Regions from separate parts of the Homo sapiens genome. Here region 1 is linked to region 2. A link means that fine-mapping ties the variant in region 2 to the expression of a gene that starts in the linked region. Tissue or cell type: whole blood. Region 2 holds a variant in brackets; the other region holds the start of a gene. All regions are shown on one strand. Distances are between the middles of the regions.

The links. PIP is the estimated chance that this variant, and not a neighbour inherited with it, causes the effect.
Region 1: it holds the start of STEAP3, and the variant in region 2 is fine-mapped to the expression of STEAP3 in whole blood (TOPMed, PIP above 0.99). The same link has a PIP of 0.9 or more in blood mononuclear cells.

The regions. Positions count from the first base shown.
Region 1 is chr2:119,222,280-119,224,963 of GRCh38, forward strand. It overlaps STEAP3 (STEAP3 metalloreductase), which reads left to right and starts at 1,555. Exons shown (of 6, transcript NM_182915.3): 1 at 1,555-1,609. RefSeq lists silencers at 1,298-2,077, 2,138-2,207.
Region 2 is chr2:119,313,912-119,316,595 of GRCh38, forward strand. All of the region lies in intron 4 of C2orf76 (chromosome 2 open reading frame 76), which reads right to left. Among named protein-coding and RNA genes, the nearest start is that of C2orf76, 52 kb to the right of the region's middle. The variant C/T (reference allele first, on the strand shown) is at 1,309.

The DNA of each region.
Region 1 (2,684 bases), 92 kb before region 2:
TATTAGGGGCACCAGAGGGGGCTAGGAACTGGGTCTTGTCTTCTCAAAGTTTACAACCCACTGCAGGGGCCACTCACCAGCCCTGGCACCCTAAGGGCAGGAACCTCCATTGGGCACGTGTGTCTCCAGCACTGGGAGCACTGTCTGGCACCTGGGGCACTGTGAGTGTTGAATGGATAAAGGACCTGTAAGAATTGCCATAAGAGGTGTTGCCCTGGGGCAAGGTGGGACAGGAAAGTTCTTGCAAGAGAAGAGAGGCTCTGGCCTTGGGCCCTGGCTGAGCAGAGAGCTGGGAGGTGGGTATTCGGGTAGGAGGAAAGCTGTGGAGGGGGAAAGCAAACTGCCTGCGGGGGTGGGGGGGTTCTCGGCGGGAGTTGGGGGTGGAGGGAAAGGCGCTTTACAGCAGCACTCCCTCCACAGGGAGACCAGAGCTCTGCCTCTTCCTCCCCACCGTGCCCTTTGGGGTCCAGTTGTGGGGCCTTCCTTGAGGCCCAGCTCCTGCCTCTGGCCTCCGGAGGCTTATCTCCCCAACAGAGGCTGGCTCCCCAGAAAACAGGATTCTTAGACTTCCTAAAAATAACCTGAAGCTCCTTATCAGAGGCTAATAGTGTATGTCTCCCAGGAATACTCTAGAAAGAGTACCAGGGGTCAGGAACCCCCACTCAGCCTCCACGAATCTGAGCGGAAAAGCCCGGGTCTCCTCACCTGTAAAGAAAATAACTGCAGCCGGCAAATGTGACCACAGGTGAGAAGGGGCTTCGGACCAGGGCGCACACCTCTAGAGAGGTGCCCACAGACAGCCTCCCCTTACTTACGCCCTGCTTCGCTGCAGTGCTGTGAAGCCATCGGCATTGGAAGTGCGGAGGGCAGCGGGCAGTGCCCCAGGGGGAAGGGGGGACGGGTAGGGTTTCAGAGCCCAGAAGGCCTAGACAGGGAGGCAGCTCCGGGAGAAAGGTACCCGCCATCCCACCGGTCTTGGAACCTGAGGACTGCTGGGAAGGGTCAAAAGTCTGCCCTAAGGGTGGACAAGGGACAGAGATTGGGGGGGGACCACAAAGGCCTGGGCGCAACCTTGTTGAGAGGGAAGGGATCCGGACCCAATCTGGAGCCCTGGTCTCTTCCCACCTGCAACCGTGGCTGCCACTTGGCCTCGGTTATAAAATGGACAAGGATTCGAGGTGCTCCTCAGGTTAAGAGAGGGGGGCCTAGAGGTCACCCTGGCCTCGGTGCCCTCCGTGGCCGGGTTAAGAGGAGGTCCCGGAGTTCTGCTCACTTCAGCCGTGTGCCGGGCACTGCAAATCAGGAAGTGTTGGCGCCGGCTGGCGACCTCCCGCCTGGGGCCAGGGGAGGAGGGTGGTTGGACGCTGCCACCGCTGCCGGGGCTGTGCAGGGCTGGGCGGGGAGCGAGGACCCGGCGGCTCCTGATTGCGGCCCCGGGGGAGGTGGCCGAGCCGGATAAGCTGCGGCGGGCTGGAGGGCGGCCACCTCCCCTGCAGGTCCGGCCCTCCCGGGCGGGTGGGGCGCGGGGGAGGAGGAGCCTCGGGCCGAGCCACCGCCTTCGCCGCGGACCTTCAGCTGCCGCGGTCGCTCCGAGCGGCGGGCCGCAGAGGTGAGTGTACCCTCCCCCGGTCTCCGCGGGGCTGCGTGCTGCGCCCGGTCCCCGAGACGCCCGCCCGGTTGCACCCTGCGCCGTCGCTGCGCGGACCTCGGGTGCCGCCACACGTCTGGAGGCGACTTCTGTCCCCTGGGACCGAGCCACGTGCGCCCGGCGGCAGAGAAACCGGGTTCCGGGGCCCCCACCCCGTGTGCCTTCCTTCCCTAGGCGTGGAAGCCGCTTGCGCCGCGCAGGTTAGGCAGGGCCGGCGGCGACAGTGGCGGGGAGCAGGCTCCGGAGCCCCGGGTGCAGATGTGGGCGCCCCTCCGGATGACCCCGGCTGAGTCCACAGGTCCCGTGTGCCCCACGGCTGGGGCTCTGGCCAGCGGTCCCAAAGGAGGGCTGGTAGCTGTGGGCGGGGATCTTCCAGGCTCTTCCTCGCCAGACCTCCCAGTCCCTTCGCAGCCGAACAGGGCAGGGACAGGGGCAGGTGCAGGGGCTGGGCAGGGGCGCCCGACCTTGGTCCCCAGGAGGAGGCTGGCCTCACCAGTGCCCGCCTCTGCCCGCGGAGCCCTTGCCTGGCAAAGTTCCCCCTCCTGCCCGGCAAAGCTCCCCCTCCTGCCCACTTCCCCGAAATTTGGGGACAGGCTGCCCGGAGAGGTGTGGTTGGAACTTTGGTCACTCTGGGTAAATGAAGGGGAGGGTGTGCCCAGATAATATGCGGTTTGGGGACCAGAAAGCCGGATCCGTGGGGAGAAGCAGGAAGGTCCCGCTGGAGCCCTGGCAGAGGGCACAGAGAGGCCTCCCAAATATCCAGGGCCACCTCAGAGATGGGCTCCAGAAGTGGGGATTCTGGAAATGCCCCCAGGGAGGTATTTCTGTCCATCAGAGTGCAGCCATAATATAATTAACAGCAGATATTCCCATTTATGTGTGCCAGGCATCTTGCTAAGGGCTTTGAGCACAATATCCCAGTTAATCCTCACAACAGGAAGGCACCATTATCTCTTGTTAAAAATGGGGAAACAGCCTCAGAGAGTCCACGTATTTTGCAAGGATACACAGCTAGGAAGTTGCAGAAGTAGAATTT
Region 2 (2,684 bases):
TTGTAGAGTCTAGAGCATCTTCACATGCTAAGGAAATTCGGCCTTTTCTGTAAGTTAGAAAAATTTCCCCCACTTTTCATTTGTTCCTTGCTTTTCTCAGTGGTTTTTTTTTTTTTTTTTTTTTTTACATAGAAGGTGTTAAATGAATTTTCGTGGAATAAATAAGTTAGTGAATGAAGTAAAATGTATCAATCTCATATCGTTTCTCAGTTTTCTGTCATATTTAGAAAGCCCTTCTTCACGCCAAGATTTTTTAAATTCCCTGTTCTCTTCAAATATTTTTAAGAATTTCATTTTTTGAATTTTTCATCGTGGAGAATTTCAAATATACAATAGATACAGAATAGTGTAATAAACCCCCTGCCCTGTACCCAGGACCCAACTTGAACAAATTATCAAGTCATGTTCCATCTGTTTCATCTCTATCCTCATCTATGGGTTTAATTTTTTAATCCAAGGGGTATTTATTTTGGCATAAAGAAAAATACATGGATTCAACTTAGCTGTTTTTTAGATGTTTATGCAGTTATTCAAATACTATTTATTGAGTCCTCCATCTTTTCTTTACAAACTTGAAATGCCATATTTACTATACATTCAATTTCCATATTTGGAAATATTGGGGTCTATTTTGGAACTTTTAATTCTGTGCCCTTAAACTACCAGTTCATGTGACAGTGCCATACTGTTCTAATTACTATCGTTTTATAACATGTCTTATATGTTAGAGCTAATTACTCTCATTTCTCTTTTTCAAAATTCTCCTGATTATTCTTATTTTTTACATACTGATTTTAAAATCAGCTTATTTAGTTTACATATAAACACAAGTATTGTATTTTATTGGGGCAGCATTAAATATGTAAATTAAGAGAGAACTGATTTTACGCTGTTGTATCTTCCTATCCAAAATATCCTAAGCATTTCTATTTAAGTCTTATTTTGGAACTCTCATAGCAGGTTTTGTTTTGTTGTTAAGTTGAAGTACAGTTTCACACAATGAAACGCACAGATCTTGAGAGGAGTTCACTTTAATGGGTCTGAAAAATTAATCGCAGAGTTTAGATGCGTATTTTCAAGTGTGTGTGTGGTGAGGGGTGAGGAAGGACAGCAGCATTTTAAGTTTTCTTTTTAAAGACCTTGCACATTTCTTATAAAGTTTGTTCCAGGATATGACTTCCACACATAAAATGGAAATTAAAGTTTTTATTTCAATCTTAATAGAAATTATTCCGACTTTATAAACACACCACTGATTACCATCCATAATACACACACACATACACACACACACACACAGAGGAGGCT[C/T]GGGTGGGAAGGTATCCAGTCAGTCTTTTTATTGTGGGAATGGGAAGAAATTTCTGAGGATATGTAGTAACTGCAATTAGGAAAGTCTCTAAGCCCAGAAAATTAGGGAAATGGGGAAAATGCCTTTTATGAATGAGTTCATTAAGACAAAGGAATTATTTAGAAGTCTCTCCTTTCAGCTGACGAAGGAGATTAAAATTACAGCTGAGTTGGAACACTAACAGGCCAAGCCAGCAATGCCACAGGCCCCGCAGATGGGGAATAGAAAATGAAAGGACAACAATAACTTGGAAATGAGAAAAATGACTGTGAACTGGATAAGGCACAAATGAGGACATGTGGATGAAGTTTCTCTGAAGTTTTAAAACCGTATCTGTGAAAATATATTGAACTCTTCCCTTAGAAAAGTTGAAGCAGAAACTTGCAGAACCATCCCCAGGGCATCTTAACTAGCATTGTTATGATTTGGATCAAAGTTCATAAAGCCAGATTCCAGAAGCACTCTGAGTGACTTAATTGTTTTGGGAGTCCTCCCTTAAACAAATACATTGTTCAACTGGAAAAACAAGCCCTAATTTTATAACTAGAACCTGCCAGTGTGAAACATATGTCTTAAATATAAGTAACAATTCTAAGATTGTTTTGTCTTCCGATGACAGGATAATTTCCAGATTTTTTAAATGTTATAATACTGATAATTTGAACATGATGAACTATGTCTCCACTAAGATAAAGGAATAATTTACTACTTACTCCTTTTTGGCAACATGAGCATATGAAAAGCCAAATGATGTAGAACATGCAGCAATGAATGGAGAATGGGGACTTGCTTTGCTTTACAACCTTTTTGAAGAGCGTATTGTTTTATTTTAACTTTATTTTATATTTGTATTTGTATTTTAGATGTATATAATACACAAAAATATAGAACATTACCTATTCTCTACATTTTAGGAATGAGGTTGAAAACATTCCTGTCCCAGAGGAGAGAAATTGGACGAAGTCCAAATATGGTGGCCACACATTCTAGTACCAATCAAAAGGGCAGATTCCATACCACAGCCCCAGACACGTGTGAGCATGACATTTTGAGGCATTTCACAATGGATATTGTAAAACTGGCATATACAATCCTTGGTATAAAAAATAAAGTTACTAGAAGGAACCAAGCCTACTAAACCCTTGACTTTTGCTCAGTGAAACTGATTTTGGACTTCTGACCTCCAGAATTGTAGGAGAATAAATGTGTGTTGTTTTAAGCCACAAAAATATTTTTTAAATAACATAAATTTTAAAACACAGTTACTAATCAATGGTCAACAGACATAGCCTCATGCCATTTTCTTGTGATCTGTGATACGCATTTATCTGAAAGG